Regions from separate parts of the Homo sapiens genome. Here region 1 is linked to region 2. The links come from fine-mapping of genetic effects on plasma protein levels. A gene starts in region 2. The other region holds a variant in brackets. All regions are shown on one strand. Distances are from middle to middle.

Region 1 (5,384 bases), 90 kb after region 2:
AGAGAGATGATTTGTATGTAAGAAACAGTGACCTCCGTCAGTCAGGGTGAAGATCCCCAGAATGGCTACAGAAAGAAACTCTGACTTCTAGGGAATCAACAAGTGCCACTGAACCTGAGCAGTGTCCCAGTTACTGGGGACACCAGAAAGGAAACAAAGTGGGGAAACCTCACTGGATTTTTGTTTGTCTTTTTCCTAGATTGCTAACACATGTCAGCATAAAAGTAGCACCTTTCCCGTATGTGGACTTGTGCCATATAGGTAACTGGGATTTTCAATCTGATGGCTTCTCAGCAAATGTTTATAGGTGTCCTTCATTATAAATACTGCTCAGGAGGCCCTGGCATGTCTCAGGATTTATAACATTTCAATTTGTAATTGGACGTGTTTTCCAGCCTTTGAGTTTTGTGCCACAGATTAAGAACTTTCATGTATCATTCTTATTAGTTGTCAGTTCTTGCCTTAGGTTGCATTTGGGGGTTGTTGAGTCTCCCTAAAAGTTAGTGCTGTGGAAAGTGAGCAGAAAAGCTAAATCAAGCGCGGGAACAAGCTTCCTGGCATTTGTACAAACTGAAGCTTCTGTCAGCTGTGCCAGGGCCCTGAGCACTGCAGATGCTGAATCATGAGCCTGGAGTAGACAAGATTGCAGGGAACTTTATAGACTCAGCAAACGAGCCACATTTGCAGGACACAGAAACCTGATCCAGACTTCTCACTAAGGCACTTAGTTACTTTTTTTTTTTTTTTAAAGAAACAGAATAGCTAATTGGCCTCCAGAGGTCATTTGAGGTCCCAAAAGGAGACCTTATCATTAATAAGACACTCCAAATCTGATATCAGTTGTAACTAAAACTTAAAAGGTATTTCAACTCTAGCAAAAGAAATTGTGTTCACTGCAGTTTGTTTTTGTGTTCACTGCTTTTCTCTCTTTCATGACCCATTTTCTTCAAACAGCTCATATACCCAAACTTACGTGCTTCATAGATAATGAACTAACAGTCTGTTTTTTATGTGTCTGTATTTATGTACATCAGAAAAACCCAAGATGATATGGTGCACACTATTTTATATCAAGATTTTTTAAATGTAGCAAAATTTTAAATATTTTAGCATATATTAAGTAATCTTCTAAACCTTTAATTTTTAAAAATTTCATAATATTATTTCTAATTCATTTGTTATAATATGTTTAAAAATGCCATGGTGATAGACATTTTGACTCTTTCCAATCTTTCACTATCCGAATAACTTCAAGGGAAGGCCTTCCAGATACGTTTTGAATACATCCCTTATAATTGCTTCAGAATTAATTCTGAGAAAGGAATTTTCTGGGTCAAAGAGTTGGTACAATTTTTTAACACTCTTCATATATATTAACAATTTTTATTTCTGAAAGTTTGTATAAATTCATATTCCCACCACCATTACATATATATATATATTTTTAAAGCATTTGTAAATAAACTTCATGAAGATTGTCTTTTATGCTGCTTCAGAAAATCTTTGTACAGAGTACCAGAAAAGGAAATTAATATGTAAGAATGGCTAGGTTAAACTTATTTTCACATAATGCAGCCTTTTTTCCCCTAAAGATCTCAAATTGTTTTTTTTATTTTTATTTTTTTGAGATGGAGTTTTGCTTTTACTGCCCAGGCTAGAGTGCAGTGGTGCAATCTCGGCTCACTGCAACCTCCACCTTCTGGTTTCAAGCGATTCTCCTGCCTCAGTCTCCCAAGTCGCTGGGATTACAGGCACCTGCCACCATGCCCAAATAATTTTTTTTGTATTTTTAGTAGAGACGGGGTTTCACCATGTTGGTCAGGCTGGTCTCGAACTGCTGACCTCGTGATCCACCCGCCTCAGCCTCCCAAAGTGCTGGGATTATAGGCGTGAGCCACCGTGCCCGGCTCAAAGATCTCAAATTGTTTAGAGAAAAGTACATGCACACATTGTACACACACATGTAGACACACAATATTTTCCACGTAACTAAAGAACAGTCTATTTGGCTATGAAGTTAAATGTGAATGTGGATATTGACAGCATCCCAGGAATTAGTTGCAACCATACTTTGCAAAGAGGGTTGTCTAGGTTTTCCCATTTCACCACTAACAAGCCCCTCTCTCATTCTTACTTCTCACTAAGAAAAGATTAATGTCTTGGCTTTTACTTTTATTGCATGGACATGGGTTAAAAGTGCTTCTTTCCATGTGAAGCAAATATAGGAGCTCGAGAGGTC[C/A]AAAAGAAGCGTGTAATATGAATGCTAGGTATCAGTCCAAGAATAAGGAAGAACTTTTGTTCTGCACTTGATGGAGCAATAGCTTTTGTTTAAGTTCCTACCAGTGCTTTGCACATAATATATAATAAAACTATTTTGTTGATTTTTTTACAACTTTAAAAAGTAATTTATTTACTTTTCTTATTTAAACAAATTTATTGGGATATAACTTATGTATCATAAAGCATATAATTGTTTTTAGTATATCTACAGAATTGTGCATCCATCAACATAATCTAATTTTAGAATATTTTCATCACTGCATAAAGAAACCACACCACCTGTTAACAGTTGCTCCCCAGTCTCTCTTTTACCAACCATAGGTAACCACTAATCTATTAATACTTTCTATCTCAATAGATTTGCCTATTCTGGACATAAATGAAATAATATAATAGGTGGGCCTTTGTGACTAGTTTCCTTTTTCGTCCCTAGTTTTAATGAGATATAATTGAAAAATAGAAATTACATATATTTAAGGTATGTAACTTAAATTGTATATATAGGAATTGTATGTATTATTCAAAACATCAGGTTGATATGTTGGTACATTGTGAAATGGTCACCACACTCAAGCTAATGAACACACCCATCACCTCACATAGTTATCTTTTTTTTTTTTGTAGTGAGAACATTTAAGATCCACCCTCTTAGCATGTTTCAAGTACTATATATTTGTTGACCAACTTTGCTGATGAGCCTATTTAAATAAGTTAATTTTTAGCATTTCAGTTCTTATAAAATAATAAGCATCAACAAAACACTATGAAAGTACTTTTCAAAATTAACATATTTCTATTAAGTCTTTTTTGGTGAGCTGCTAATACATATTTGTAAGTGCTTACTAATACTTTGATTTCTCTTCTGCTTACGTCAGCAGTCATGATGAATAAATAGATGAAGTGCCTCCATCCCAACTTCCCTCTACCTTATTACTATCATTATTAGGTGGGGAAGGCTTCTTTTCCTAGGTCTATTTCCTCACCCTGGCTTCTTCCTATTCCGTTGCTCATTCTTGCTCAGGGAAGGAAGAGCGGCTTGACTGCTGGGAAAGTATGTCTGTGCAGCCAGTTCCTCCCTCCCTTTTTTTTTCTTTTTTTTTTGTAGGATCTACCTTCCTACAAGAAGAGTACATTCTCTCCACCTTTCTCTTCTCTGAATTGTACTGTGGCCACCCACATGTGTGTATGTGGCTGGGGTTAGGTTGTCCCACATTGTCTCTGCCTGGGTGGGTAAGGCTAGCTACTCCTGGGTGCAGCATTAGCAGGCCTATTAGATTCTCAACTAATCCTCTCCTCCAGTATAGCTCTATAATAAATGAAGGTGACATTTTGATGTTTCAATTCTATGTCACTCTCTCATTTAGTTTTAAACTTGGGTGGGCACCAATTCATACCTATGAGGATGGCTATAATGAAAATGATGGACAATAACAAGTGCTGTCGAGATTGTGGAGAGATTGGAACCCTCATACACAGCTTGTGGGAATGTAAAATGTTGTGTGGCTGCTTGGCAGAACAGTTTGGCAGTTCCTCAAAAAGTTCAACAAAGAGTTACCATATCACCCAGCAGTTCTACTCCTAGGCATATACTCAAGTGAATTAAATACATATGTCCACAAAGAAACTTGTACATAAATGTTCATAACATTATTCATAGTAGCCAAAAGGTGGAAACACCCTAAATGTCCTTCAATTGTTGAAGGAATAAGGGAAATATGGCATATCCACATAGTGGAATTACTATTCAGTCATAAAAGAAATGAAGCACTGATACATACTACACCAAAAGATAAATCTTGTAAACATTATGCTAAGTAAAATAAGCCATACACGAAGGGGCACATATGATACGATTCTGTTTATTTGACATGTCCAGAATAGGCAAATTCATAGGAACTGAAAGTAGGTTCATGATTGCCAGGGCCTGGTGGAGTGGAGGGGAGGAGAAATGGAAACTGATTGCTAATGGTTACAGGACTTTTTTCTGAGGTGATGAGACTATTCTGGAACTACATAGTGGGGATAGTTATACAACTCTGTGAATATGCGAAGAAAAACACTGAATTTTATACTTAAAAAGGTAAACTTTATGATTTCTGAATTATATCTAAATAACAACAACAATAAAAAACCCAGGTGGGGAATAAGAGTTTATTTACCCACCCTCTTCATCAAACAAGAATCCTTTAGGATTGGTCTTGTCACATATGCTCATGAATAAGCCATTCCTGTTCATTCATTAAACAAATATGGTTTTACTGTATAGCATAATGTCCTTTAGGTCTACCCATATTTGGCAAATGCCAGGATCTCCTTCTTTAAGGCCGAATGCTATTCCATTGCGTGTGTGTTTGTGTGTGTGTGTGTGTTGAAATAAGCCAGACACAGAAAGAAAAATATTCTGTGACCTCACTTATGTGTAGAATCTAAAAAAGTCGAATATGTATTTATGTTGGTGCAAAAGCAATTGCGGTGTTCGCCATTGAAAGTAATGTCAAAAACCACAAATACTTTTGCACCAACCTTATAGAACAGTGGTTACCAGGGGCAGGAGGTGGAGGGGTGGGAGTGGGGTGGTGGGTTGGAGAGATGTAGGTCAGATGGTACAAAGTTGCAGTTATATAGGCTCTAAGTCTAAAGATGGAATGGATAGCATAAGGGCTATGGTCAGTCATATTGTATGATGGGAATTTGCTAAGAGAGTAGATTTTAGGTGGTCACGCCACACGCTTAAAACGTAACTGTGAGGTAGAAATAAGACATGTTAATTTGATTGACTATAGTAATAATTTCACTATGTATATCAAAATATCATGTTGTATATTTTAGATATACACAACTTTTTTTTTTGAGACAGTGTCTCACTCTGTTGTTCAGGCTGGAGTGCAGTGGTGCAATCTTAGCTCACTGCAACCTCTATTTCCTGGGTTCAAGAGATTCTCCTGTCTCAGCCTCCCGAGTAGCTGGGATTACAGGCACGTGCCACCACGCTTGGCTAATTTTCGTATTTTTAGTAGAGACGGGGTGTCACCGTGTTGGCCAGGCTGGTCTCGAACTCCTGACCTCAAGTGATCCACCCACCTCAGCCTCCCAAAGTGCTGGGA
Region 2 (5,384 bases):
TTGAACCTGGGAGGCAGAGGTTGCAGTGAGCTGAGATCGCACTACTGCATTCCAGCCTGGGTGACACAGCAAGACACCATCTCAAAAAAAAAAAAAAAAAAAGAAAAAAAGAAACTATATTGAATCCTCATTCCATACCCCAAGTGCATGAAATGATGTGTTGTAACTGGTGGGTGGGTTTGGTCAGTCCAGGTTGGCTGATAGGTTTATTTATCAGAACAGACTTTAAGAGGTTGTCACTGAATTGCAAGAGATGCCTTTCAAGTAACTTGCATCTGGGTGCTTTGCACCTTTCATTTCCCTCTCCCTTCTCATTGCTTGTACATCTCCTTTCTGGCTTGCTTTCTCTCAGGCCCTTTTTCAGGATGCATATTGTGTCAAATATAAATTTGGAAAACCTAGCCAGAGAATACTTGACTTGAGGGAGACAACCCTAAGAACATTGACCTGCAGTGGGCACTCCGGTGGGGCTAGAGTGTTCACTAGCCTGCCCCAAGTGTGACTTCTGCTTGTGTGTATCACCCATTTCTTTATTCATTTAGTACATATTTTCCAAGCGATTTCTCTGTGCCTCAGACACTGTGTGAGGTCCTAGGGACACAATGGTGTGCAGAAGGGAAAACTGTTGTTGCCCTCACATGGGGGAGGTAGCAACAATTACAAATTTACAGGAATAAATATGTGATAATAATATCCTAGCTCAACATAGAAAGGAAGTTATCTCAGTATTTACCTAACAGTTTTGTAATGTGTGTGTGCGCGCGCGTATATGTCTTCTTCTTTTCTCTTTGTTAAGTGTGAGTGGAGAAGATGATGGCTAACACTGAGTTCTGTCATGGCCATGGCACTTTTATACCCACATTCTTTCTTTTAATCATGGAATTCTCCACCCCAGCCCTCACCCCGTGGATGTCGGAGTAAGACAACATTGTTATCACTCAGATTGTCATTGGGAGGGTGAATAAATGAATGCTTGCATTATGAGAGTTTGGGGGCAGAAATATGCCACAGACTCTTATCTGAAGCCATCAGATTTAGTGGCTGCGAACCCACCGAAGTCAGGGATTTACATTTTTTACAGCAACGAGAGAAAACTTCCCCTTTCCTCTGCAGAAGTCAGGACTGGATCTCAAAAATAGAAATGTGTCCTCCTAAATGTGTGCCCATCCCCGTGGTTGACAAACAACGGATTTCCCAAGATAGCTGCCACACACTTGGTTTCTAATCTCTGTATTGCTTCCCCGCCAGAATGTCGAAGTCCTTCCCGAATATGCCCAGTCATACTTTCTGAACTTTTGAGCAAACACCGTCCGGCTTCTTGTGCTTTCCTCAAAGACCCCAGGCACCGGCAGGGAGGACACAGGCCGGGGCAGAGCGCCCCTGCGCGGGGGATTCCTGCCACTCCGCGCCAGCCTGCGGCGCAAACGCTCTTCTCAGCCGCAGTCCCACCCGCTGCTGGCAATCTGAATGAGGAGCCGCGCTATTTTTACCTCCCCGGCTGCAATCCTTTATATTTACATGCAGGAAGCAAATATATAAGGGATTAAGAAGGAGATGCGTGGCCTTAGTTTATCCAGAGCAGGAAGAGGTTGGAATAGGAGAGGGTATGTGAAGTCTGGGGTGGTGGAAAAGGCAGGTGGACTTCGGCTGGTTGTTTTCTCCCGATCATCCCTGTCTCTGGCCTGGAAACCCCCGTACTCTCTTTCTTCTGGCTTATCCGTGACTGCCGGCTCCCCCTCCACCGCCCCCATCTTTTGAGGTACCACCCGTCACCTCCGATGCTGCTTGGGCTGCTGCATCACTCTGCTGCTTTACCCCCTTCCCCGCCCCCCAACAAAGCATGCGCAGTGCGTTCCGGGCCAGGCAACAGCAGCAGCACAGCATCCAGCAACAGCATCAGCACCCGAAGCCCCGCTCGGGCGCGCTCTCGGGGGGCGGGGCGCACGCCCGCTCCGCGCGTCCCCGCGCCGCTCGCTCCCGCGCGTCCCCGCGCCGCTCGCTCCCGCGCGCCGCCTCAGCATCCTCAGGCCCGGCGGCAGCCCCCGCAGTCGCTGAAGCGGCCGCGCCCGCCGGGGGAGGGAGTAGCCGCTGGGGAGGCTCCAAGTTGGCGGAGCGGCGAGGACCCCTGGACTCCTCTGCGTCCCGCCCCGGGAGTGGCTGCGAGGCTAGGCGAGCCGGGAAAGGGGGCGCCGCCCAGCCCCGAGCCCCGCGCCCCGTGCCCCGAGCCCGGAGCCCCCTGCCCGCCGCGGCACCATGCGCGCCGAGCCGGCGTGACCGGCTCCGCCCGCGGCCGCCCCGCAGCTAGCCCGGCGCTCTCGCCGGCCACACGGAGCGGCGCCCGGGAGCTATGAGCCATGAAGCCGCCCGGCAGCAGCTCGCGGCAGCCGCCCCTGGCGGGCTGCAGCCTTGCCGGCGCTTCCTGCGGCCCCCAACGCGGCCCCGCCGGCTCGGTGCCTGCCAGCGCCCCGGCCCGCACGCCGCCCTGCCGCCTGCTTCTCGTCCTTCTCCTGCTGCCTCCGCTCGCCGCCTCGTCCCGGCCCCGCGCCTGGGGGGCTGCTGCGCCCAGCGGTGGGTATGGCCCCGTGCCCTTTGCGTTGGCTTTCCCGCGGGGCCCTGCAGAGGAAAGCGAAGGGCGCGCGGGTCCGTGTGCTCCGGGCTTGTCCCCGGCTCGGCCTTTCCTTCCCTCCCTGCCTGTCTTTCCACCCTTCTCGTTCCCAAACCCCCATTCATCCCAGTTCACTTTTGGAAGTCCATTTCTGTTGCATTCGCGAAAAACCCATTCCAATTCTTGTTGGTTCCACTGGGAGGTGTTTAGTGGATCCTGGGTCCCTCAGCGATCTCTGTGCAACTTGCGGAGGGGCAACCAGTGGATGGGAAATACAGCGAGGGAGCAAGTTGCTACTTGCGTGGTGGAACCTTAATGTGAATGCGGGGAGGATGTAGTGATAATAGTGGTAATGGGCTGTTTCCTCAAATTTCGTATCCGGCGCATTCAGTGCGGTTGGAATTAAGGTGGGGGAGGCACACTTCGGGGACCAAAGAATTAAGGTGCTGAAGACATACTTCATGCACGACCTTTGGTTCTGATTTCTCAAAGTGCTTGTCATTATAATGAACAATTAATATAATACCATCTTCTATATATTGATGATTGGAAGTCACTGAAAGCAGAAAGCTGGCTTTGTCAGGAAAATAAAAAGAAATTGGGAAGCTGCCAGCATCTGTATCCCTACATGGCAAAGTATGTTTGCTCATCTTAAAGTTAAAAGAGAAGGGAATTGTCCATTTTGTTAAAAGAGTCGATTAATATTCGGTATCCATAAATTCAGTACTCAAGTTATCTTAGGAGCGTTCTTAGCTCTTGGATGGGATGCCACTAGGCAGAGTAGAGTTGTGCTTCTGTGGACTCAGAGAAGGGGTGGAGATCGGGGGCAGGACCCCTGAACATGTTCATTTAATGACTCTTCTTCCCTCAAGTTCATTCTACCCCCCCCCCAACACTTAGAAGTATAGATTTGAGTCTGACTAGAAATGTATATATAAGACATAAATCAAAATAAATAGTGCACAGTTGTATAAGCCTTATTGGCTATTTATTAACTTCTCCAGGCCATTTTATTGTTGAAATAACTTGCTTTACTCTAGCTCTACTTCTTAACTGCTTATAAATAGAAAACTTTGTGTTTGAAATTAAAGGAAAAATGCATTTTAGTGCTTATGTATTTATGGGGTAAATATGTGTGTGTTTGTGTATGTTTGTATTTTCTGCTCCCCCACCCCCCTACCTCCACCAGCTCCGCATTGGAATGAAACTGCAGAAAAAAATTTGGGAGTCCTGGCAGATGAAGACAATACATTGCAACAGAATAGCAGCAGTAATATCAGTTACAGCAATGCAATGCAGAAAGAAATCACACTGCCTTCAAGACTCATATATTACATCAACCAAGACTCGGAAAGCCCTTATCACGTTCTTGACACAAAGGCAAGACACCAGCAAAAACATAATAAGGTAGGCAGGAGGCTGGCTATGCAAAAGTAACTATCATGAAGAGTTTTCCTTTGATTTGATTTTCTGCCAGAATCTGAGTTCACAAATTTTACTGCAGCATTTTATTAAGAAAGCAATTAATATTATGATAGGGGAGAAACTGGAAGGAATTAACTTGGGATCTACTGGGATAAGACTGTTGTTTCTCTTCTCTGACTAAACTGGAACTAGAATTTTCTGATACCTGAAATGATATCCATGTATCTTTCAGGTACATTGGGCACTGAACAGTAGTTAAGTGAATGTGTTTATGATTCTAACTTGTTTCTGTGAGGCTTTATGTAAGGGTGCAGTATTCTGCCTTGATATAAAACTGTCTCCCATGATATAAAAACTGCTTTCAATCTGCACATGCAAGATTGCTTCAAGAAGCTATTTGGCTGCAGTGTCTCCATCAGTCTTTCCACTTAGAAATTGAGTGTTTAAACAGTCTGTTTCTTTAATTGATCAGTAGGAGGAAAAAAAAATTTTCTGTTGTATTTTCAATAGGTAAACAATTTGACATTTAAAAAGATTATGGTGACTAGACACAAATTATTTGCATAATATGAAGACCAATTTTGATTGGCATAATTCTTCAGTACCTACTCTGCATTGATTATGAGCAGTTGCTTTACTTTCAGGTTAGTTCAGAAAGTGGAACTGATATTTACCAAGGTATCAGTAGAAGACAAATGTTTAATATCCAAAGAGTTTAAGGGATCTTTTTCCCTGTGTTACTATTCTTTACTTGAATTAATATTATTTTGAACCCCGAGCAGATTTAAACAATGGATTATCGGTTCTTCTGTTGTTTATCGGGAGCAGAAAATAGAGTCTGTATGTTAAATGTTTCATTTTGATCTGTACTTGTTCAGGTGAGAACAACAGTTAGCAATTAACTGTCTAAACATCTAGAATTTAAGAAAGTATCTGCAGTTTACATCATTGTTTTTTATTAGTTTTCTAAAATATAGGTGAGTGGTAACAGTATTTATCCCCATTTTACAAATGGGGAGCTAGAAATTTAAGGCTTTTGGGTGATTTTCCTATGTTGTAAAGCAGCTAATATAAAATTCAGGTGACCTGAATGTTTAATTTTTACTATTTTTTACAAGTTAGGTCTCTGAGAAAGTGCTTTCTTCACCTTGAATATTACTGGAGAGGTGAACTTTCTTTCACATTATTTTGAAGTGGCTGCTACCCACCGTGAGATAAATGTGTCTCTGTTCTCAGCCAGCCCTTTTCTCCATAAGCTCCTATATAACTTAATGGGGTGACTAATAGGTCATGTCTAACTCATTTGTCTTATTGATAGGAGAAATGGGTGTTGTCTTTAAAGAAGAGAAATCCA

What was found. PIP is the posterior inclusion probability: the model's chance that the variant is causal. Protein levels are from the aptamer-based SomaScan assay of Sun 2018.
Region 1: its variant is fine-mapped to the plasma level of the ADAM23 protein (Sun 2018, PIP 0.95).

The regions. Positions count from the first base shown.
Region 1 is chr2:206,531,594-206,536,977 of GRCh38, forward strand. The region is part of intron 4 of ADAM23 (ADAM metallopeptidase domain 23); the gene reads left to right. Among named protein-coding and RNA genes, the nearest start is that of ADAM23, 91 kb to the left of the region's middle. The variant C/A (reference allele first, on the strand shown) is at 2,240.
Region 2 is chr2:206,441,513-206,446,896 of GRCh38, forward strand. It overlaps ADAM23 (ADAM metallopeptidase domain 23), which reads left to right and starts at 2,020. Exons shown (of 26, transcript NM_003812.4): 1 at 2,020-2,568; 2 at 3,795-4,012. The coding sequence starts at 2,355. RefSeq lists a silencer at 2,465-2,594.